4 linked regions of the Homo sapiens genome follow. The main gene of each other region encodes a partner of the protein of the gene in region 2 in a complex. Each region holds a gene or a part of one and is shown on either strand. Other genes may lie near its edges.

The links.
Region 1: TAF10 (region 2) and TAF5 share a complex: the UniProt entries of both Homo sapiens proteins name them as parts of the TFIID basal transcription factor complex.
Region 3: TAF10 (region 2) and TAF4 share a complex: the UniProt entries of both Homo sapiens proteins name them as parts of the TFIID basal transcription factor complex.
Region 4: TAF10 (region 2) and TAF11 share a complex: the UniProt entries of both Homo sapiens proteins name them as parts of the TFIID basal transcription factor complex.

The regions. Positions count from the first base shown.
Region 1 is NC_000010.11:103,370,972-103,378,018, reverse strand, and holds part of TAF5 (transcription initiation factor TFIID subunit 5), read right to left. Parts: intron 4,662-7,047; coding exon 4,424-4,661; intron 1-4,423. UniProt on the Homo sapiens protein: The TFIID basal transcription factor complex plays a major role in the initiation of RNA polymerase II (Pol II)-dependent transcription.
Region 2 is NC_000011.10:6,605,775-6,608,949, forward strand, and holds the end of TAF10 (transcription initiation factor TFIID subunit 10), read right to left. Parts: coding exon of another isoform or gene 3,110-3,175; 3' UTR 3,017-3,109; coding exon of another isoform or gene 2,920-3,016; 3' UTR 2,716-2,919; coding exon of another isoform or gene 2,620-2,715; 3' UTR 2,438-2,619; coding exon of another isoform or gene 2,272-2,437; 3' UTR 520-2,271; downstream 1-519. Other genes in the region: scaffold protein ILK, read left to right, coding at 2,272-2,437, 2,620-2,715, 2,920-3,016, 3,110-3,175. UniProt on the Homo sapiens protein: The TFIID basal transcription factor complex plays a major role in the initiation of RNA polymerase II (Pol II)-dependent transcription.
Region 3 is NC_000020.11:61,999,877-62,006,923, forward strand, and holds part of TAF4 (transcription initiation factor TFIID subunit 4), read right to left. Parts: intron 6,883-7,047; coding exon 6,634-6,882; intron 4,003-6,633; coding exon 3,855-4,002; intron 3,399-3,854; coding exon 3,284-3,398; intron 2,753-3,283; exon of another isoform or gene 1,938-2,752; coding exon of another isoform or gene 1,271-1,937; intron 1,044-1,270; coding exon of another isoform or gene 871-1,043; exon of another isoform or gene 852-870; intron 846-851; coding exon 676-845; intron 379-675; coding exon 248-378; intron 1-247. Other genes in the region: uncharacterized protein LOC105372704, read right to left, coding at 871-1,043, 1,271-1,937. UniProt on the Homo sapiens protein: The TFIID basal transcription factor complex plays a major role in the initiation of RNA polymerase II (Pol II)-dependent transcription.
Region 4 is NC_000006.12:34,885,043-34,892,297, reverse strand, and holds the start of TAF11 (transcription initiation factor TFIID subunit 11), read left to right. Parts: upstream 1-4,255; 5' UTR 4,256-4,340; coding exon 4,341-4,511; intron 4,512-6,266; exon of another isoform or gene 6,267-7,255. Other genes in the region: ANKS1A (ankyrin repeat and SAM domain-containing protein 1A), read right to left, coding at 2,699-2,895. UniProt on the Homo sapiens protein: The TFIID basal transcription factor complex plays a major role in the initiation of RNA polymerase II (Pol II)-dependent transcription.

The sequences.
Region 1 (7,047 bases), on a different chromosome or scaffold from region 2:
TGTATCACAAACATTTTAAGAAAAGAACTTAAATATCCTAAGTGAAAAATAATATACCCACCATTGGTAGACAGTTTCTTTAGAATGGAGACATTTAAAAGAAACTGGTAGACATTTGAAAATATAAGAACCCTTGCTTTACTAAATGTTATGGTTTCTCAAAACCCACTTTTAAAAGTTTTATTATGAAAATTTCAAAGGCATAAAAAAGAGTATAATGAACTCAATGTACACAGTACTCAGCATCTCAACAATAATCAATATATAACATTCTCATAAAACCCATCATTTTTAATGATTTCCTATATTTATTGGAAACATGTACCAGACATTTTTAAAATATCAATACTTTAATATGATCACTAAACAACAAAGTGGAAGTACTCATTGTTTGGTATCAACAACTATTACCAAAGACAATAAAATAAAGCCTTTAGCCTTGATAACAACTAGTAAACTTAAATGTACTTTTGTTTTTACAACGCTTAATTTTCCTAAGAAAATAAAATTAAAGACAATATATTTGGCATTCACTAAAAACAGCAATCAATGCAAAAACATTTTTAAAACAATGACTAAACATATTAGGGCTCCAGCTCTGATAAGCACATAGTCAACAGATTTCTAAACTGTTAACTATGTTACCCCATTACAACTCATCAATATATGATCTAAGATTTGAATAAAATTAGAAATCTCAGCCTCTTATATCAGTAACTGCCCATTATCCTCCTGTGGTGATGGGGTCCTGGCAAGGGGTGAGACTGTCCATAATGGGAAGACAGAGAATCCCCTATGACGTTCCAGCTTCCTATGTGGGGAGACAGCTACACCATGAGACAGGAAGAGCAAAAAGGTTTTTCCTTCTTTTTTAGAGACAGGTTCTTGCTCTGAAGCCTAAGCTGGAGTGCAGTGGTTCAATGCAGCCTGAAACTCCTGGGTTCAGGGATTCCTCTTGCCTCAGTCTCCCGAGTAGCTAGGACTGCTGTGCCACCATACTCCACTAATTTTTGTTTACGCGATCTCAGCTCGCTGCAACCTCCACCTCCAGGGCTCAAGCAATTCTCATGCTTCAGCCTCCTGAGCAGCTGGGACTACAGGCACGTGCCACCATGGCTGGCTAATCTTTTGTATTTGAGTAGAGATGGGGTTTCACCATGTTGGCCAGGATGGTCTCGAACTCCTGAGCTCAGGCATTCTGCCCGCCTTGGCTTCTCAAAGTGTGGGATTACAGGCATGAGCCACCATGCCCGGCTCAATTTTTGTTTACTTTTTGTAGAAGCAGGATCTCGTTCTTTTGCCCAGGCTATGTTTTTGTTTTTTTAAGTGACAGTATCTATGTTGCCAAGGATGGAGTGTTTAGATGACAGTACTTTAAAGAGAAATTAGCTTCTAGGGTAGAAGTTCTGTCATCAGCCTTTCTTATTTTTTTTTTTTTCAAAAGCACTTGGCTACAGAACATTTTGCCTTATATACTTCCTATTAGGCATCCTAATATAATGAATTTACTATAATGGCATAGAAGCCAGGGGTGCTAAGTTCTACTGTTCCTCTATTACTACTACCCTGTGTTAAGTGATAAATCTTGACTTCAGGCTCTGTTGCTTGTATTAAACATTTCTCATTCAGGCCAGGCCCAGTGTCTCACACCTGTAATCCCAGCACTTTGGAAGGCCAAGGTGGGCAGATCACCTGAGGTCGGGAGTTCAAGACCAGCCTGACCAACATGAAGAAACCCTGTCTCTACTAAAAATACAAAATTAGCCAGGCATGGTGATGCATGCCTGTAATCCCAGCTACTTGGGAGGCTGAGGCAGGAGAATTGCTTGAACCTAGGAGGCGGAGGTTGCAGTGAGCCGAGATGGCGCCACTGCATGCCAGCCTGGGTGACAAGAGCAAAACTCCATCTCAAAAAAAAAAAATTATTCACACTGCTAAGCACGGCCTCCTTTTTTTTTTTTTGAGATAGACTTTCACTCTTCGCCAAGGCTGGAGTGTAATGGCGCAATCTCAGCTCACTGCAACCTCTGCCTCCCAGATTCAAGTGATTCTCCTGCCTCGGCCTCCCAAGCAGCTGGGATTACAAGTGTCTGCCACCACGCCCGGCTAATTTTTGTATTTTTAGTAGAGACAGGGTTTTGTTATGTTGGCCAGGCTGGTCTCAAACTCCTGACCTCAGGTGATCTGCCCACCTCAGCCTCCCAAAGTGCTGGGATTACAGGCATGAGCTACCACACCCAGCCTGCCTCCTTCTTAAATACTCCTTTCCCTTGGCTTCTATAACTCAGCCCTCCCCTGGTTTTCTTCCTGTGTATCTCTTCTACTTGGCCATTAAATTTGGAGCTCCTTGGGCCTAGCCCACTGACTGACTTATTTCATACTCTCCCCTAGTCAACCTCATCCATATCCATCAATATTGCACACAACTCCAATTAATAGTTCTAGTCCCTACCTCTGTTCTGAGCTCTCATATATCATCTACCTATCAACTTGACATTTCTTAAATGAGTCAAAGGCATATTCAAATCAGAACTCAAAATTATTCCAAGGCTGACAAATCAAGTCCTCTTCTAGGGTTTTCTGTGTCAGGAATTGGCTCCCCTATCCAGCTAGAACGGCCAGAAAACTGGAGATTTCAATGATATCTCCATCTCCCTCACCTCCCTAGCCAATCTATCAAGTGTCTCATGACTTTGTCTACTTCTCTTCACCTCCACCACAACCTAGTCCAGTGCTTCTCAATAAGGGTGCTATTAACATTTTGGGCAGGATAATTCTTTGTAAAGTGGGACTACCTAGGTGCACATATTAGAACATTTAGTATTCCTGCTCCTCCGCCCAGTCATTATGACAACCAAAAATGCCTCCACACATTTTCTTTTTTTTTTTTTTTTTTTTTGAGACAGGGTCTCACTCTTGTCATCTAGGCTAGAGTGCAGAGATGCAATCTCAGCTCACTGCAACCTCTATCTCCCAGGTTCAAGCGATTCTCCAGCCTCAGCCTCCCAAATAGCTGGGATTACAGGAGTGAGCTACCACACCCAGCTAATTTTTGCATTTTTTTGAAGAGACTAGGTCTCACCAGGCTGGTCTCAAACTCCTGAGGTCAAAGTGATCCACCCGCCTCAGCCTCCCAAAGTGCTGGGATTAAAGGCGTGAGCCGCAGCGCCGGGCCACCTCTACACATTTTCAAATGGTCTAGTGGAAGGAGCAATTCCACCTCCAGTTGAGAACCACTGCAATAACTTCCAAAACTTGTCCCTATAGTCATTCTATCCCCCATTTGTTTTCCCCACTGCATAAAGGTCCTTTCAAAGTATATATCTAATAACGACATGGTCCTTTAATGACTCTGTAGCAGAAATGACTCTGTAGCAAAAAGGCTTCGCTCTCCCCAAATATCCATTTTTCCTGTCTTCCTCCATAAAAGAAAACCTGAATATCAGCTGGGCACATAGACACTTAGGTAAAGACTACATTTCTTATTTCCCTTGTAGCTAGGTGTGGCCACTGACTGTTAAGATATAAAAGGAAGAAGTGTGTGCAGTTTCCGTGTGCCCTACCTGCTGACTGGCACACTGATGTGACTGCTTAGAGCAGGAAAACCATCTTATGCCACAAGGTGGAAATTGCATGAAAAGCATGAGAGAGCAACAAGACCGAGGGAGCTTGGGGCCCTGGTAATGAAGAACCCACCACACCAATCCCGAATGTCCCACATTTACGAGAAAAATAAACAAACTTTTATTGTATTTAAACCTCTGTTGTTTGGGTTCTCAGTTACTCTTATTCTAATCGAATCCTAACACTGCTTCCTAGTTTTCTTAAGATAAAGGCAAAAATAAACTTTTATTTATGCCATTGTTGATGAGTTTTCAGTGACTCTCAACCAAATCTAATCCTATCCAATACAACTCCCTACTGCTCTTAGGATAAACAAAGACCCTCAACATGGCCCAAAAACCTGCCTATCCTTTTTTTTCAATGCCTTCACTTTAACAATAGAACCTGCCTACTGTTCCAGTCCCTAACCAATTCCCAGCTTCATAGTATACCACACCCCCATCCCATTCTCTGCTCCAGCTACCCTGGCCATCTTTCAGCCTCTGTACCTACCAGGATCCTTCCCACCAGAGAGCTTTTACACATGCTTTTCCCTCTTCTCTTCATCTGGTTAACTCCTACCTAATCTTCAGATCTCAAATCTCACTTCAAGTATCATTTCCTCTGGAAGCCTTCTCTGACTTCTCCAGCTAGATCAAACCCCACATTTTAAGTTCTCATAGCCTCAGGTACCTCTCCTTCACAACGTACTTTTTAAGTTGCAGTCTTACATTTTTGTGGTTACAGATGTGAAAACATATGCACGCACACACACACACTACGTATGTGTGTATATATATATATGTAAAAATTTACATACTTCTCAAAGAATGACTTTGCTTCATTCTCATGTTGATTGTAGACTAGCTCCAAGTACATGTGCACAAACAGAGGATAAAAAAGTTGGGACAACTCTGCCCGATGGCAGTCCAGGGAACATTCAATGAAGTGTTTCAGTCCACTATAGTATTCTTCATACATTGTGGGATCTCCTTGTTGGTTGTAGGCTGACAACACGGCACTGACATCTGGCTGGTCTTCCACAGCAACACTTCCAACTATTTAAAAAACAAAAAACTTTTAAGAAAATGACCTATTATGACCATGTGACTATGGCTGTATTGTTAAAGCCCACAGGTGAGTTGTTTCTCAGACTGTTGTCTCTTTCTTCCCACTGTCTCTTCCTCAACACAATCACATAATCTTTTTTTTTTTTTTTTGAGAGGGAGTCTGGCTCTGTCGCCAGGCTGGAGGGCGGTGGGGAGATCTCGGCTCACTGCAACCTCCACCTCGCAGGCGAGTGTCTTGCCTCGGCCTCCCAAGTAGCTGGGACTACAAGCGTGTGCCACCATGCCCAGCTAATTTTCATATTTTCAGTAGAGACAGGGTTTCACCATGTTGGCCAGGATGGTCTTGATATCTTGACCTTGTGATCCTCCCGCCTCGGCCTCCCAAAGTGTTGGAATTACAGGCATGAGGCACCACACCTGGCCCACGTAGTCTTTTTTTTTTTTCTTTTTAAGATGGAGTTTCACTCTTGTCGCCCAGGCTGTAGTGCAATGCACAATCTCGGCTCACTGCAACCTCCCCATCTCGGGTTCAAGCGATTCTCCTGCCTCAGCCTCCTAAGTAGCTGGGATTACAGGCATGCACCACTATGCCCAGCTAATTTTTGTATTTTTAGTAGAGACGGGGTTTCACTATGTTGACCAGGCTAGTCTCAAACTCCTGACCACAAGTGATCCACCTGCCTCCCAAAGTGCTGGGATTACGAGTATGAGCCGCCGGGTGCGGTGGCTCCCGCCTGTAATCCCAGCACTTTGGGAGGCTGAGACAGGTGGATCACGAGGTCAGGAGATCGAGGCCATCCTGGCTAACACAGTGAAACCCCGTCTCTACTAAAAACACAAAAAATTAGCCAGGCGTGGTAGTGGGCGCCTGTAGTCCCAGCTACTCGGGAGGCTGAGGCAGGAGAATGGCATGAACTCGGGAGGTGGAGGATGCAGTGAGCCGAGATCGCGCCACTGCACTCCAGCCTGGGCGACAGAGCAAGACTCCATCTCAAAAAAAAAAGTACGAGCCACCGCGCCCAGCCATAATCTTTTAATGGAATTTTTTTCACTTGTTTCATCACCCAAACCGAAACCCATCAGCACACCCATATCTTAAGATAACAATAACAGGCCAACACGGTGGCTCACACCTGTAATCCCAGCACTTTGAGAGGCTGAGGCGGGCAGATCACAAGGTCAGAAGTTCAAGACCAGCCTGGCCAACATAGTGAAACCCCGTCTCTACTAAAAATACAAAAATTAGCTGGGTGTGATGAGACGTGCCTGTAATCCCAGCTACTCGGGAGGCAAAGGCATGAGAATCACTTGAACCCAGGAGGCAGAGGTTGTAGTGAGCCAAGATCGCTCCACTGCACTCCAGCCTGGTGACAGAGCAAGACTCCGTCTCAAAAAAAAAAAAAACAATAACAAGGAGTCAGTATTTCTCCTGGAACTACCTGATGTTAAAGACAAATTGTATAAAAGATATGTGCAAATCAAACAACTACATTAACTTTCTCTCAATGCTCTGTGCAAATGGCACCCACCACGACCAAGCCATGCACTGCAGTAACATTCCCAGCTCTCTGGGCCACCCAAGCACTGTGTAACATTCTTGTAACATATCCTATCCTGTGTTCCCTTCACATTATATACATCTCTTACCCCTTACAAAATGTAAGTACTTAAGGGTGGGAAGGACCATGCCTTATTTATATCTTCAAAAGATAGTTATATGCTTAAGACAATTTCCATAACCACCACTTCAAAACAGAAAACGTAAGTATTTATTGGTAATACAGCACCACCTAACAATACATCTGTCAATTAAATCAGTCAATTAATCTGTCAATTAAATCAGAATTTGGTTGTTGGAAATTTCTGTAAGTTGCCATTATAGTACACTTTGCTCTTTACTGCAGAAATGTGATAATTTCTTTGGTTACTCTGATGGCCTCTTTTCCTCCTTACTGATTTCTCAGTTATGATCTATAATTAGGTCAAGTTTCTGAAGAGATCTGAGATTACAGCAAAATAACCAACAATATAATTCATCTTATAGTTCATTCACAAAATTCAACATTCAAAAAAGATTCCTCTCTCTTTTTTTTTTTTTTTGTAAAGACGGAGTTTTGCTCTGTCACCCGTGCCAGAGCACAATGGCTTGATCTCAGCTCACTGCAACTTCTGCCGCCTGGGTTAAAGTGGTTCACCTGCCTCAGCCTCCTGAGTAGCTGGGGCAACAGGCACATGCCACCACGCCCAGCTAATTTTTTTGTATTTTTAGTAGAGATGGGGTTTCACCATGTTGGCCAAGCTGGTCTTGATCTCCTGACCTCAAGTGACCCACCCGCCTTGGCCTCCCAAAGTGCTGGGACTACAGGCGTGAGCC
Region 2 (3,175 bases):
ACATTGGGTTCCTTAATTTAAGGCACTATGATGAACACCTTCTGTGCTGGGTGCTAGAGTCCAGAATCTGACATAATCTCTGCTCTCGATACAGCAGATTTGTGGCAGATTGAAAAGTAGGCCGGGCGCGGTGGCTCACGCCTGTAATCCCAGCACTTTGGGAGGCCGAGGCTGGTGGATCACGAGGTCAGGAGTTCGAGACCAGCCTGACCAACATGGTGAAACCCTGTCTCTACTAAAAATACAAAAATTAGCCAGGCGTGGTGGCGTGCGCCTGTAATCCCAGCTACTCGGAGGCTGAGGCAGGAGAACTGCTTGAACCCGGGAAGCAGAGGCTGCAGTGAGCCAAGATCATGCCACTGCCCTCCAGCCTGGGCCACAGAGCAAGACTCTGTCTTAAAAAAGAAAAAGAAAACAAAAGTTGAGAGGTGAGCAAATAGTGAAAGTGAATGTACACCAGTTCTACAAGGTTGGCTGAGATAGGAAGGCAAGAAGAGCAGTAGTGATGGTGACTCAGAGTGGCAAAATCAAATTCTTTATTTTTTAAAATTGGTGGAGTTTAGTTTTTAGGTTTGACAGGTCAGGATCACCTGTCATCTTAGTCTAGACTTCACTGGTTCCCATTAGGTTCTACACTATTTCTCTTTAATACTTTGCAAAGTCATTTGTTCCATTTTTCATATAATTCTCAAAGGGTACCCTGATAAAGACAGTAAGCACTGTTACTGTTTTGTTGGTGAGGAAATAGAGGCTTAGGCAGTTGCCCAGTGGGCCTAGCATCTAGGAAGACTCTAGCTGAGTCTAGGAAGACTCTAGGAAGATGCTGCCAGAAGGAAAAGGGGTGGAATTAATGAAACTGGAAGGTTGTGGTGCTGGTTTGAGGAGTAAAGTATGGGGGCCAAAGTTGGCTATATGCTGGATATGAAGAGGGGGTTAATTCCTTGCAGGTCTTCTTGAGATAGAAGTCCAGGCCCTGAGGTGGCAGGCAGCCTGATAGTGAACAGAACCCTTGTGCCCATACTTTTGCCCCCCGAGTTTGGCCTGCCCTGGCGCCACAGGCAGTACTGGAAGCTGATAAGTCAGGGCACAAATTAAAGGTCTAGGAGGCAAGACCAACTGATAAACAGGGGGCGTAATGCTTCCTGGGGATAATCCCATCTCAAGGAAAAGCTTTTGGCTATTTCTGTGTTAGCAGATGCGAGCAAGTTGTGGAGGAAAATGATTAACTTAAAGGCCACACCCCCCAACCCCTTCAGCTGTACGGGCATCTGGATGGCCAGACCCCTGATCAGCTCCAGGCCTTGCCTAGAGTCGCACACAGGAAGTGACCACAACACTAAGGCATCCGGAGGCTGCTGGCCCAGACCACGGACCGCCCCCTGCTCCGCCCCTTGAATCTGCAGCCCCGAACTGGAGGGAATTTCCTTTTATGGCCCCAGGCTGTCAGGCAGGCCCAGCTCCAAACCAATTGTTTTGTTTTGTTTGTATACTTTACTTTATAAAATACATATTTCTTGGAAAAGAAAAAAATCAGGTATAGTTTTAATCCCAAAACAGCCATTCTCATTTTCTTCTGTTTTCTATGCACAGGATTGCTAAGTAGGGGAATCCTGCTTTGCATGGTGGTTTGTTATCTACCTCATCAGTAGTCAAAAGCATTTCTCCTTTTCAACATAAACCCTTCCAAAACATCATTTAAATTCCATTCCATTTTTAGATGTTAGTTTCAGTACCAGAGCCAAATAGTAAGTTTGTTCCCTCTTCTATAAGTTGTGGCCTGCCTTCTCCAAGACACCCTTCTCCCCCACTAACATGCACTGAACAGCTGCTGTCAATCCATTCCCTCAAGAAACTTAAAGGTCTAACAGACAAGACAGTCCATTAACAGATTTTTACAATCCAGTGCAACAAGTGCTGAAGTAGGGGGACATATAAGATGTGGTGGAAAACAGAAAGGACCAATAGATGTTGCAGAAGGGGTGCAAGAGAAACCAGGGGAAGAGCACTACCACCTAAGGAAATGAGATGTGGGATATGGTGAAGATAACACATTTTTTTATAGAGGTTGTTGAGATATCTAGGTGGTTGGTTTGGTTTGAAGCTCAGGGGAAGGTCTGAAATGGACAGCTTTGGGAGTTGCTGGCATGAATGAGAATCAAAGTCCTAGAGAGGTAAGCCTTCCCAGAGAGTATGTAATTATCAGTTTTTCAGGAATCAAAACCTTTGCCCCATCCCACCTCCAGCTCAATGACCATTGCCCCTTCCTCAAAGGGACGATCATGGCTTCTCCCCCTTGCACTGGGCCTGCCGAGAGGGCCGCTCTGCTGTGGTTGAGATGTTGATCATGCGGGGGGCACGGATCAATGTAATGAACCGTGGGGATGACACCCCCCTGCATCTGGCAGCCAGTCATGGACACCGTGATATTGTACAGAAGGTACGTACAAACTCCTTCGTCATCCACATCACATACATGCCATGAGGGTCAGTCACAGGCACTGTAACATACAGTAGAAAGCATGTGTGCTCTTCCCCCTTTTCCCATGCCCTGACACCAGTATCTCATTTGGAACTGACTGTACTTTCTGCCTCTTCTTTTTGTCTGGCCATGGGGTCCAGCTATTGCAGTACAAGGCAGACATCAATGCAGTGAATGAACACGGGAATGTGCCCCTGCACTATGCCTGTTTTTGGGGCCAAGATCAAGTGGCAGAGGTGAGTACTCAGCCCTTAATTCCTGAGATGGGTAGGAAGTAAAGTCTGAGCCTTGGTGGGAGATTTTGGAACCCTCAACCCATTCTGTCAGTACTACTGTGTGACACTTACAGGATTAAGTTCTACATTTGTGCATTCATGGTTGGTTCAGTGACTGCCAGCGAGGTAGCAGTGGCTCTCATCATAATGGCCTTTTCATTCCAGGACCTGGTGGCAAATGGGGCCCTTGTCAGCATCTGTAACAAGTATGGAGAGATGCCTGTGGACAAAGCCAAGGCACCCCTGAGAGAGCTTCTCCGAGGTCCATCTCCCCATCCCCTAGCTTGTGTCCTCTCGTCCCTTCCCACCTGTCTTCTCCCTCTGTACCACAGCTTAGGTTGTTTTTCTTCCCTAGAGCGGGCAGAGAAGATGGGCCAGAATCTCAACCGTATTCCATACAAGGACACATTCTGGAAGGGGA
Region 3 (7,047 bases), on a different chromosome or scaffold from region 2:
AGGCGGAGGCTGCAGTGAGCCAAGACTGCGCCACTGAACTCCAGCCTGGGCAACAGAGTGAGACCCTACCTCAAAAAGAAATCTTTCCAAAATCTAGTCCTATAAGAAATCCAAAACACGTTCGTAAGGAACATGGAGGCACTTGGGACCCACCGCCCTCTGCCTCGGTGTGGGGAGGAGGCTCCCAGCCAGCAGAGAGTGGGGGCCAACAACATAAAGACGCTCTCCTCGGCAAACAGCCTGTTACCTTGTAAGAAAAGTTCTTCTGCTGAGCTGTTTCTGATATTTTCTCTACAAGATTCTGTAGCCTTTGTTGCGTGGCATGTGATACATAACTTACTACATCTGGATGTAATTCCGTTATACCATGTTTTTTACCTAAAGGTCAGGCAAGAAAAACAGTATTTTAAAATCATTAAGCACAGTTCTTTCTTTACGGCTAATCTCTGATCCAGCAGTTACTGCTTTTATACAACCCAAGGGGAGCCCAGAAAGGCTGGTGGGGTGGAAGGCAGTGGTACCCATATTTTACCCAAGAACCACCACCAGCAACCATGTGGAAATCACAAACTCAGACAAAACACATGACCAGGTGTCAGGTGTGCTCACCTGAAGCTCCCATGCCCCAGCAGCGCAGCTGTTTAATAAGAACTCAGTCATTAAACACCAACGTACCTATTTCTAATATTCTTCTCTGCAAAGGCGCTTGGAGGAGGAAGGTTTCATCTTTACAGGACCGCGTTAGCGTGCCCACCAATTCAGAGTTCGTGGCTAATATTCTTGCACTTTCTTCTGACAAGTTTACTCCAGCCATCGATGCAACATCATTAATGTCATCATCGTCCCTTGAGGAAAGAAGGGAAGATCACTTTAACTGTACAAGGAATTCATCGGGAGGTGGGCTGGGGTGGTAAGGGCAGGAAACCCCACGTGGAAGGCAGGGCCGTGAGGAGGCCAGGCCTCTGTCCTCCCCGCACCTGCACCTGCTGCATCTGCCACAGCAGAGAGGGTGCCTCGCTGCTTTCCTGGAAAGCTCGATTGTTCTGCGGAAGGAGAGCTGTGAGTTGGCGCCGGGTTAACATCTACACACAGATGCGCAGGGGACTCAAGTCCAGAGAAAGCAAAGCCGGGAGCAGCGCGGGGACTTGTGGGGGTCTGATCTATGCAAAGCTTTTTAAAGCCAGAGGCAGCATTAAATTCTTTTTAAAGGCTCAGAAGTTGGAAGAAGAGTACGCACAATTTTTTCCTGAATCACCTGAAAGTTGCTAACCTGACTTTCCTCCACCCGGAACATTCTGCACGTGTTTCCTACAGACAAGGGCATCCCCTCCAGAAGCAGGATGCCATTGAGACCGGGCCATGATGAATGGCCCCTCCCCAGGCCCTCCCCCGTAGGACCCGGTCCCAGCAGCGCCTCTCCCTGCAGGACAGTCTGCATCCCAATCCCAGCTGCCACGTCTTGTCCGGCTCCTCAAGCTGGAAGGTTCCTCAGCCTCTCCTGACTCCTGGGCTGCCCCTGACACCTGGAAGGCACAGGCCAGCTGTGTGCAGGACGTCCTCTTCCAGGCTGACTTCGGCCCCCTCGTGAGGAGATGTGAGCTAAGAGTCCTGCCGGGAATTCCACATGCACGCAGCCTCCACTTGCCGCCTCCAGCAGTGGGCTTTGAACGTGAGGCCGGGGGCCTGCCTGGCGTCTCCTGGGGTCGTTGTGTCTCGGGGAAGAGCTCTACAGCAGTTCTCATGCCCAGTCCTCCTATGGGCTCCAGGTGCTCACTCAGGGTCTTGGCATCCCTGGTGGTCACGGGCTGTGGCTGGGCTGCACAGCTTAGGGCTCCAGCTGAAGGACCCGGCCATGGGAGGGAGGCTGCTCTGCTGACATCCACGTCCACGTCATGCCCATGTCCACTGCTCTCTGACACAGGACGGTCTCCGCTCATCTTGTATTTCCTTATCCCAGTCCCGCAATCAGCCTTTTCTCTCAGGAGTCCTTGTCATTTTAGTGGAAAACGGTTTTTAGAAGACAACATCTGAACACTAGGTGTGCTCAGTGTTACTGGGGCGTTACTGTTCCCAGGACCCTGCGGTGAACAAAGCTAGAAACTTACGGCAAGACCCATGGTTATCCATGCCTGCCGACACACTGAAACCCAGGGGTTTGCGTCAGCATTCCAATCCTGAGCCAGCCCACAGGGGTCACTCTCCTTTATCCCTTCTGCCAGGCCGCTGACTCCTTGACAGCAAAATACCAAGGCTTCCTGCAGCCTTGATTAATTCTTTCACCCGTGTATGTCCCTAAGTGCCCTCCCTTCTCACTGAAGTATCAGCGTCACGCTGGGCCCAGGCATGCTGGCCACCTCTCCCTGCTTGGGCTGGGACTCTGGCTCAGGCCACAGCCACTCCCCAGGCCTGCTATGCCCTGCCTGATGCCTTTAGGGATGAAGTGTCTGGGAAAGGGAAAATTCACAGTAAGACTTCCTGAAATACACACAACTCCACCGCCCCTTGATCACAACAGAGATCACTCCAAGACTCTCCCACTGCTCAGGTCCCATAAGCACCTCCCTGACTGAGGTGATGCTCAGACCACCTGCTTTCCAGGAGGCCCAGGCAAAGCACAGCAGTTATTTTTCTAGAAACAGGGCCTCACTCTGTCACCGACGCTGGCGTACACTGCTAAAACCATAGCTCACTGTAACACTGAACTCCTGGGCAGAAGTGATCCTCCTGCCTCAGCCTCCCAAGTAGCTAGGCCCACAGGCACACACCACCAAGCCTGGCTAATTTTTTATTTTTTGTTGTTGTTGAGTAAGGTTTTACTATGTTGTGCAGGCTGGTCTCAAACTCCCGGGCTCAAGCGATTCTCCCACTTCAGCCTCCTGTAGTGCTGGCACTGTAAGCGTGAGCCACTACGCCTGGAGCAGTACAGCATTTCTGAGGGTTCTGAAGTTGAATACATGGAAAGTGAAGCATTCTATACTAGGAATGCAATGAACTCAAAATACGATGTTATACTAAAAAATGAATTTCCTATTAGTTCATATAAAAATAATCAGTTGATTCGCTTTCTGGCTATGTGTATGAAGCAAAACCTCTTTGAGCCAACTGTATGGGAAAACACACTTGTGTGAACGTGAGGTCAAAGTGAGCGTGAAGCAGGAGCCTTGGAGCCCCGGCCGCCAGGGCCACGTGGGAAAGACCCGTGGGCGGGAATGGAGCAGCACGGACTCTGGACTCTTCTCCGCTCTGGCCACGCTTCTCCAACGTACACAGGCCCATTCCTTACCGAAACGAACCTCCCCCAGGCTCCTTGAGTTTATTTTTCTGTGCAGCAGCTGCTTGTGCCGAGACAGCAGAAAGGGCTTTGGTTCCAGGTAACACGGCGGGTTTCACCACAGGGACTACAAAACAAACACACAGTGGAAACCACACAAGGCTTTTATTAGATCAACTATGTGCTTTGGTGCTTTACAGGCTCAAGGGCACAGCTACCACTCTCCTAATTAGCTACAAGAAAGTTTCCAAAAACTTCATATTAATAACTCTAAATTACAGTACAAAGTGTAAGCTGTACCTCTCGAGCATTTATTTTCCTGTATTTCATCAAGGTTTTTAAAGTGCAGGAATGATTACAGATAAAGAAGCTAACCATGGAAAATACATAAAATTAAAAATCATACTGACAGTGGTGATGGTTACACAACACAGTAAATGAAATCAGTGCCACTGAACTAGATACTTAAAATGGCCAATTTTATGTAAATGTACATTTTACCCAATTAAATAAAAGCCCAATGGCAGCTGGCTCTGGGAGCAGCCCTTGGTGTTGAGCGGCCAGGGGCCCGCGAGGCCCTCACCTGGCTGCAGTGGGTTCAGCTGGATCTGCTGAGGCGTGGTGAGCATGATCCGGTTGTGAGGCTGCCGCAGGGCGACCATGGGTGTCTGCGTCAACGTCACCTGCGGGGGCCGGATCAGGGCTCCTGGCTTCGGAGGCTGCTGGATGACCTGAGGCAGAGCCAGCAGAGAATGGTGAGCATGCTCCCCGAGGGCCAGGGGCCACTCAGTCCCTAGCAGGAGGTTCTTCCCTTCCCTTCCTTTGCACCCCACGCCCCCAGTAAGAAGTCCTAGGAAGACCCCGTGTGCAGCTCAGCCCCAGCAGGCTGCAGGACCATGCTCTGGCCATGGACTCGGCCAGACCAGGGCAGGACGTGGGCGAGGGGTGCCCGTGTGAGCACAGAAGGGGCAAGCGGGAGCAGATCTGCTGCCTAGAAGCTGCCCCTGGGCATTGGTCAGGGCCTGGAGGGGGCGGGTGGCAAACTGATGCCTGCTGACCTCAGCAACCCAGGATGGAGCAGACCACTGCCCCCCAAATATTAGCAGAGGTGACATTGTTGCCTGGTGGCTACAGGTCAAGTGGTTCTATCTCATCTGAATTTTCTTTTTTCTTTTCTTTTCTTTTTTTTTTTTTTTTTGAGACAAGTCTCGCTCTGTCGCCCAGGCTGGAGTGTAGTGGCATGATCTCGGTTCACTGCAACCTCTGCCTTCCGGGCTCAAGTGATCTTACACCTCAGCTTCCCGAGCACCTGGGACCATAGGCACCCACCATGTCTGGCTAATTTTTGTAATTTTTTTTTTGTAGAGATGGGGTTTCACCACATTGGCCAGGTTGGTCTTGAACTCCTAGGCTCAAGCGATCCTCCCACTTTGACCTCCCAAAGTGCTGAATTACAGGCATGAGCTACCAAACCCAGCTCCCTTTCTGAATTTTCTGTAAGGCGGCTGAGGGCTTTTCTACTGGAGTGGGGTTAGAGTTCCTAAGTCCTGCCTGAACTTGGCCCTCAAGGGCCTCCACCCACTGCTCCCAGCATGGCCAGCTCTGTCCGCCCAGCCCCTGCTGGGCCCCTCGTGGCAGGGTCTGCCCAGCTCTGCTGTCATCCTGCCTCTCACTCTCACCTCCGGCACAAGGCAGAGATCCAAAACCTGGCAGCACTGACCATGGCCTATGCTCTGGCCCTGTCCCCAGGATGCTGGGGCCTAGAGACACTGGCATCCTTGTCAAAAGCCAATGCTCAAGTCCATAAGGCCTGGCCTCAAACCTCTGGGCCCAGGTGCTTCAGAATTTAGTCGCTACCATTTTGCAAAGGTGCCCTGGCAGGTAAACTCTATGCTGCAGAACATGTGTGGGGACCTGGGGAAGCGGCCTATAATGCAAACATGTCTCCAACGAAACAGGAACACCCACACTGGACAGGAAGAGCCTCAGGCAGCTCAGGCAATGCTCAGGCCAGGCCCTGCGGCGCAGGGAACCTGCCATCAAATGCCCGGGCCAGGCCCTGCGGTGCAGGGAGCCTGTCATCGAATCAGGGAGAAGCCTGGGTTCTGCCTCCACAGGCTTCAGGGTGCAGGCAATGGATTGGATGCCCTGGATCCCACTGGCTGTGCTCTGCAGACTCACACGTGGTCAGGAGGAGCCCAGGGAAGCAGAATGCAGAGGTGATCCTGCTGCCAAACACAGCACCTAATTCTAAAAACACCCATGCTGCTTGTGTGTGACTAAGCACCAGAGGTCAAAACTTGGCAAGAAAATGATTGCCCACAGGCTGTGCCTGCTTAAACAGAACCCACCTTTTTGGGTAAAGTAGCTCCACTGACTAGTGAACAGGGAAGTTCTGTCCTTACACTAAAGCAAGAGGCACGGCACATCTCTTTCCCTCTGGAGTCAAAAGGCAGGCAAGGAAGCCCTCTCTTTACACAGGCGCTCAGCCCTTCCCTGGCCTTTATAAGGGACACCCTCCCTCCATGCCATTTCACCCTGTTCTCCTCGCTATTATCAAGACAAAAACAAATGCAACTTGAACAGAGCACAAGAGCCAGCCCCCTAATGGCTACTCCTCACCCAGCTGGTTCTGATGTGTACACCATCACAACACATACCAGCTCATGATGAGGGAGCCCGCACCATTTTGTTGTTTAAGCTGTCTTTAGAGGAAGAAAACACCTCTGAAATTTTTTTAAAACTGCCCCTCTACGTTTGGTGAATCCCTCTGCCCATGAAAGGGAATGTGCTCAAAATGTAATTCTTCTGGCAAAGACATCCTTTCTCTAGCTGCAGAGCAAACGTCATGACTATAAAACCAAGAAAGCCAGATCCAAACTGCACATAAGTGAACCGCTATGAGCAGCCGCGGCTTCGCCTCCCGGGACTCACCTAAATCCACCCTGTGCTGTGAGCTGCTACCCTGCCTCCAGTCTCCTGCCCACCTGTCCCACGCAGGTGCCCGTGTCTTACGCTTGGACCGCTGCTCCTAATCCAAGAGAACATCTATCTACAAGATCCTCTAAAAGCACGCTGCATTCATTTACACCAGTAACATCCCCAGACAAGGCAGGGCGGGGACGTGCCGGTGGTTCAAAGCCAACTCAACTATTTCATTTTACTGAGACAAAATACAACATCCCAGGGCCTCAACCTCTGGTTTCTATTTTAACTATTTAAGGTAATACCCAAGCTTCCTCTAGCAGGAGGCTTCCTGCATGCTTGGAAAAGGTTTCTGAGCCGTGGCCAATTTATCTAAGAAGCGGGCGGGAGCAGAGGCACGGTGGGCTGTGCAGACCAGTCAGGCGCCCCTTCCATACCAGCGGTGTGGGTTGCCCCTGCTTGCCGACGCCGACCTGCGTGGGCTGCGTGAGGCTGAGCACAGGGGGCTGGAGGGCACTGGTCACGGTGGCCGCCGTCTTCCCGGCCGTGCGCTGGACCGAGCTACTCAGCACCACGGCCGTGAGCGCAGTGGTGGCCTGCGAGGTGGGCGGTGGCGGCTGCTGCTGGCTCTGCTGGATGAAGGCCGCGGAGTCGGGGGTCAGCTGTCTCAAGGCGGGTAAGCTCCTCTGGGTGGAAAGACAGACACGAGGGGTCAGGCGGCTGCTCATGCGTCGGTTTTCCTTGCTTAAAAATTCAGAAATATCAACTTTTACAGAAAGCTTTTGAGCTAAGTAAGATGGATCTTGGCCCTCACGGCAGCATGTCTGGATGTCAAGGGCCAGGACCCCATC
Region 4 (7,255 bases), on a different chromosome or scaffold from region 2:
TGGTCTCATTTGCTCAGAAATCTTTTACTAGCTTTAACCAGAGTCACCTCTAATTAGTGTAACTAGTGCCTCCAGATCCTCCCTGCCCCTAGGAGTCACAGGAATGAGAGGTTGGGAAGCTATTAGGCATTTACCCTCTCTACAAAAGACACAGAAGCAAGTCAAGGTGAGCCAGCTCTCTAACTCTAGGGAATAGAGAGTTAACACACTTTATGGCAGAGACAGGACACATCAGCAAGAGGCCCAAAGTAGAAGCATTGTGCTCAACAGGTTTCCTAGTCTTGCTTAACTATATTAACTATATGGCAGTTAAATCCTCAGCAGAATTTCAATAGTCTCCGAGTGAGCGCACTAAGAATAACTTGACCTGAGGCCGGGCAAGGTGGCTCACGCCTGTAATCCCAGCACTTTGGGAGGCCGAGGCCGGCGGATCATGAGGTCAAGAAATTGAGAACAGCCTGGCTAACATGGTGAAACTCCATCTCTACAAAAAATACAAAAATTAGCTGGGTGTGGTGGCGCTTGCCTGTAGTCCCAGCTACTTGGGAGGCTGAGGCAGGAGAATCGCTTGAACCCAGGAAGGCGAAGGTTGCAGTGAGCTGAGATACTGCCACTGCACTCCAGACTGTGGACAGAGCGAGACTCCGTCTCCAAAAAAAAAAAAGAATAATTTGACCTGTGTTTGAGGGTGGGAGATATGAGAAACTTCTCACTTTAGCAGGATATGCTGAGGGTTAAGATATCTCTGGAAAATCTCCAAATGCTATGTCATCAACTCATTAAAGACAGAGGCATCTCCAAACCTGTACAGTCTTGTCACCTCTCAGACATCAGAACTGCAGAGTGGCAAATCCAGGTAAGATTCAAAACCCAATTCATGCATTCACTGTACATTTATTAAACACCTGTAAGTTGTCAGGCACTGATCTAGGGACTGAGAATATAAACATGATATATGGAAGTATACCCATCCATTATTATTTACCTTTATTATGCCCAACCTCTCAAGGGTGCAGGCAGGAAGTTCTTCTCCTGTTGCCTAAGGAGCACCAAATAAGTCTCCATTCTCATTTCTGTGCCTCTGATCATGGGGTACCCACCTGAAACATGCCCATCATAACTCACCTACCCAAATCCTCACATCCTTCAAGGCCAGCTTAAGTCTCCCTCCTTTTGGAAGCCCTGACTTCCACTCCATCCCTAAATGATGTCTCTGTTCTCTGAGCTGCTAGCAATTACAGCGAGTAATACCATCCACCATCCATTTATTTAGAAATTTATTGTCCTGCAACTGATACTTTTATTTCTTCAACAAATCTTAAGTACCTACTTATATTGCTTTTTAAAATCTTCCTGTAAAGACCTGGGTTGGTACTCAGTGCTTAATATCTATTAATAACAATTTATTAGCGCCTTAGGCTTATATGGTCCAAGCTCACTCAAACTGAAGTTACATAAAGTAATGGGGAACAAAAGCTAACGAAGGCATTTCTAAATGAACTTCCACTTCTTAAAAACCTCAAAAGAACAAGGAAGGAAAAAGAAATCAGGCTATGAAAGCGCTGCTGAACTAACACATTTAACTCACACTAACAAAGCACCCCCAATCCCCCTTCGAAGCCACACAAAACTGATGTTTTTCCCTCGGTCCTTACAGCTCCAGATTGAAGCGTTTAACAACAGACCTTGGAAAAGTTTACAGCATCCTTCGGTTTCCTAAACAAGTCTCTCTGCCTTTATTTCTAGATGAATAAGCCCCTGGATGAATCCTGCATATGCCACTTAGACTAATCCAATGAGGTTCACTACAAGGAACTACAATTTGAACTTCAAGCACAAGAGAGGCTCAAAGACGAACATCTTGAAAATGATACATCCAGAGGCAATTTTAATAAAACAAAAGCGAGGGGCCAGGCGCGGTGGCTCACGCCTGTAATCCCAGCACTTTGGGAAGCCGAGGCGGGCGGTTCCTGAGGTCAAGAGTTCGAGACCAGCCTGGCCAATATGGTGAAACCCCGTCTCTACTAAAAATACAAAAATTAGCCTGGTGTCGTGGCGGGCGCCTGTAATCCCAGCTACTTGGGAGGCAGAGGCAGGAGAATCGCTTGAACCCGGGAGGCGGAGGTTGCAGTGAGCCGAGATCGCGCCACTGCACTCCAGCCTGGCTGACAGAACAAGTCTCCGTCTCGAGGGAAAAAAAAAAATAAAGCGAGGTCCTGTGTAGCCTGGTGGAAGGTTCCAAGTTCCTCAGAGAAGAAAATCAATAGAATTTCCTCCAGAGGAGCCTCGAGATTCTACAAGGCGTAGGAGTTTCTGCAGGAGGTGAGGGAGATCTCATATATATATATATAAGATATACATATTTGCTCTTAATTGGCTTTTGTGAGCTACGATAGCTGGCACCCTGTAGCGAGCGAGAGTGAACCCTGGCTGTGCCATGCGGCGGAGGCTGCCACCTGGGCACTCCCACCATTCTTCGCAGCCGGGTCAGAACGGGAGACCAGGCGAGCCCGGAGCAGCGTGGACTCGGACCTGCGCGCCCTCCGGTACCCTGGCCCGCGGGCCGCCTGCCTCGCCCCGGGCACGCCACAAGCCCACCCCGCCCGAGTCTCAGGACCCCCGATCTCTCTGGGGACCCAAGAGACGGGTGGGGGAGAAAGGGTCTGCAGGCAGCGGCCCGGCCCTGGCGCGTACCCACCTGAGCAGACTGGAGAGGGGGTGGCTGGAAGAGCCGAGGCCGCCGCCGCCGCCGCCGCTGCCGCCGCCGCCGCCCCCAGAGCCACCGCCGCCGCCGCCCCCAAAGCCTGAGGAGAGCCGCTTCCCGGACAGCAGCTTCTCCACCGCCGGGAGGTGCCCGGTGCGGGCCGCCTCCAGCAGCTCCTGCTCCTTCCCCATCCCCAGGGCCGCCACCCGCTGGACCCCCTCCCCGAGGCTGCAGCCGAGCCTGCTCGGGCTCCCAAACTTTCCGTCTCCGGGCAACGCACCCCCCAAACCGGCTGGGGACACCACCCCCTCCCTGCCTTTTCCCCACGAGCGCGTCACTTCCGGGATCCGGCGTCACGCGTCACCGCGCCCCCGCGCCCCGCCCCCTAGCTCACCTAGCTGGGCGGGGCTCCGCGGACCAGCGCAGGTGGACTTTGCTGTGCCGAGACACGCCTCTCGGGGCATGGGGACAGCGCCTTGTGGGCCCCCATTATGCAGGTGGAAAGGGACAAACAGGCCCACCTGTACGCGCCTCCCGAAGTGCGCTCCTTCCCCAAAGGTTTTGGGAGCTCCTGGGACAGGAAATACGGTAATTCGTCCAGGCAGCGTAGAAACAAAGAGATAAATGTAACGCGCACCTACATTTCCAAGTCCATTCTTTCAGCACGCATAAATTAAATATGTAATAGGTGCGGGGACCTAGTCATACCCAGGTGAATAAAACGCCCTCCCCCTCGTATCTCAATGAGGGAAGAGAAGAAAATTTTAAAACAGAAATATCCTCACCACTTCATCCTCCCAGTACGTGAACTAGTTCATTAAAGTGAAACGTTCAAAGGAGACACCTTCCTCTCTTTAGGCTTTCCTCTTAGTTTTAATGAGATTAACCAAACTGATAGAAAAGTGTCAGACTTGTAAAAACAAACCTCAATCTTCAGTACTGGCGAACTGAAAAAAATCATTTAATTGGGTAGAAACTATGTGTGTTTTGTTCCCTGGTACTAGCACTGTTTCTAAATCGAAGTAGGCAGTCAATAGTTGTGGATGAATAAATGAATTGGATAAATTCTGCTCGAGCTATATGACTTTTTGTTGTTAAGGTGCTTGCGGAATGGAGGGGAAATGCTAGCAATTCTATGTACACACAGGCCCGCGGTTTCGGGCCAGTTGAAATATACAAGGTTGAGTCCTTGCCTGAAAGTTTACCAGTCCCGGGGAGCCTCATTCCACGACACCGCCATACAACGGAACTGAGTTTTCTCCCAGTCCCCCAACTTTACTCTGAGGGGTTAACGAAGGGATTAACTGACATTGCATTTTTAGACAGGCGAAAAGGAAAAAGTTATTTAGTAAACAAAACTGCGCTCCTTCACAAGTGCTGGTTTCCTAGCGAGGAGGATCCATAGTCTGAGCTCTTTACGTCCAATTTTCCCGCTTCCCACTGTCGCCAAACCAAAGTTAAAATGAGTCCTCTAGTCCTCTACGCGCGCCTCAAAATGACCCCTCAGGAGAGCGGTAGGGGTGATGTCATCGCTGCGCGACGACAGGAAGTAAGATCCTGGCCTGTGCAGCTCGGGTTTCCGAGCTTCTGCCTCAGGCATCTCCGCGATCTCCTCTCCCCTCCAATCCTATCCGTGATGGACGATGCCCACGAGTCGCCCTCCGACAAAGGTGGAGAGACAGGGGAGTCGGATGAGACGGCCGCTGTGCCCGGGGACCCGGGGGCTACCGACACCGATGGAATCCCAGAGGAAACTGACGGAGACGCAGATGTGGACTTGAAAGAAGCTGCAGCGGAGGAAGGCGAGGTAGGAAGAGATGTACTGATGAGGCTGAAGGAATACCCAGAGATTGTGTTACTGGCTGCTCGCCGGGCTTCTGGTTAGTCCCTAACAAGTTACGAGAACTCGAACTCACCAGAATTCCCTCCAGATCGTTAATCTTGAGGGGGAAGAGAGGGGACGACCAAACAAAACTCCAGTGCTGGTTCGGTTCCAGAGGCTCAAGCACTGTTAATATTTTTAGTCTTGTCTTTAGGGATTAAAGCTACTTCTAAGGGAGTTATAATAGCCCGTTGGCTTTGGTGGTGAGGAAATTGGGATCCAATGTCACACTGAGACGTAGTGCAAGAGCTAAAACCCAGGATTCGTAGCACCCCTTTCACCGCAATATGGTTCCTCTTAGATGTTAAGACAACTTTTGTCTTTATAGGAAGGAGGGTCGATCAGACCTGTCAAAGGGAGATAGACTTTTATATCGAAAAGTCTATATCGATATAGACTTTTATATCGAACACGATTTAACCTGAGAGTCGCCCGGGCTGGAGAACAATGGCGCGATCTCTGGCCCACTGCAACCTGCGCCTCCTGGGTTCACGCGATTCTCCTGCTTCAGCCTCCCGAGTAGCTAGGATTACAGGCGCACACCACCATGCCCAGCTAATTTTTGTATTTTTAGTAGAGACGGGGTTTTACCATGTTGGCCAGGCTGGTCTGGAACTCCTGACCTCGTGATCCGCCCGCCTCGGCCTCCCAAAGTGCTAGGATTACAGGCGTGAGCCACCGCACCCGGTGATCAGGGACCCATCAATTGGGTCTGGTGTTTTTATGCTACAGAGAGTTCAGCAGTGTTGCCTAGCTGAGTATCGGTCAGGACCAGAAACTCATCGTTCTCAGGATTACATTTCTAGAAGTAGAATCTTGGGGTCTTACAGCTAGAAGGGATTTAAGAGATCGTGGGTGAACAGTAGATTAGATGGAAATAGCCTTTCAGAGCATAAAGTTGCATCAAAATGTATAAAGTACAAACTTTTAGAAAAAGAGAAAATTTGTCTGGGCGTAGTGGCTCACGCCTGTAATCCCAGCACTTTGGGAGGCCGAGGTGGGTGGATCGCCTGATGTCAGGAGTTTGAGACCAGCCTGGCCAACATGGCGAAACCCCGTCTCTACTAAAAATACAAAAATTAGCTGGGCATGGTGGCGGGCGCCTGTAATCCCGGCTACTTAGGAGGCTGAGGCACAAGAATCGCTTGAACCTGGGAGGCGGAGATTGCAGTGAGCCGAGATCGCACCACTGCACTCCAGCTTGGGTACCAGAGACTCCGTCTCGGAAAAAAAAAAAGAAAAGAAAAGAAAGAAAAAGGAAAAGAGAACATTTGACAAAAGTATTTTAAGGCAGGTTTTTTGTTTGTTTTTTGTTTTTTGTTTTTTGTTTTGAGACCGAGTCTCGCTCTGTTGCCCAGGCTGGAGTGTGCAGTGGCGTGATCTTGGCTCACTGCAAGCTCCTTTAAGGCAGTTTTTGTTTGTTGAGACAAGGTCTCACTCTGTCACCCAGCCTGGAGTGCAGTGGCACAGTCTCTGCCTCCTGGGCTCAAGCAATCCTCTTATCCCAGCCTCCCCAGTAACTGGGACTGCAGGCATGCTGCACCACGCTCATCTAAAGTTTTTGTTTTGTTTTGTTTCGTTTTTGAGACAGAGTCTCGCTCTGCCGCCCAGGCTGGAGTGCAATGGCGCAATCTCGGCTCACTGCAACCTCCGCCTCTCAGGCTCAAGCGATTCTCCTGCCTCAGCCTCCCCAGTAGCTGGGATTACAGACACGTGCCACCGCGCCCAGCTAATTTTTGTATTTTTAGTAGAGCTGAGGTTTCACAAGTTTCACAAGTTGCCCAGCCTGGTCTTGAACTCCTGACCTCATGATCCATCCGCCTCGGCCTCCCAAAGTGCTGGGATTATAGGCATGAGCCACCGCACCCGGCCAGCTAAAGGTTTTTTAAATATTGTTTTGGTAGAGACAAGGTCTTATTATGTTGCCCAGTCTGGTCTCCAACTCGTTGGGCTCAAGCAATCCTCCTGCCTCAGCTTCCCAAAGTGCTAAGATTACAGGTGGCAGCCACCATGCCTGGCCAAGAAGGAAACTTTAAAACAGGTGTCAAGGACAGCAAGGATTTGAATAATTAGCTTAGTACACAGAGGGCTCACTACATATCTAAATTTGCACCGAACAGAGGATAAAATTATGTTGTTTCTGAAACACTTTTAAAAATCGATCATGTACCAGACCACAAAGAAAAATATGAACTCTTAAAAGTAGAAATCATAACAGGCCACATCTTGTTAATGTAATGCATTAAACTTGAAATTAACTACAAAAAGCTTCTCCCCCACCAAAAAAGAACTAACCCCCTGGAAATTTTAAACTATTTTTTAAATAGCCTTTAGACTAAAGAAATTAATAGAACACTTTATCAAAGTATATGGGATTTGGCCAAAGCTTTATTTAAAGAAAAATATATAGCCTTACATATTTTTATTAACAGCCAGAAGATATTGCAAATAAGCACCTAACTCAAGAAACCAGAAAAAGGGCCTAGTGGAGTGGGTCACGCCTGCAGATCTAGCTACCTGGCAGGCTGACACAAGAGGATCACTTGAGGCTTCAGTGAGCTATGATCCAGCCTGGGCAACAGAGCGAGTCTGGGGGAGAAAAAAAAGATAAAGAACAAAATAAATCAGAAGAATGTAGGAACAAGGAGTTAATAAGGATAGAAGTAGAC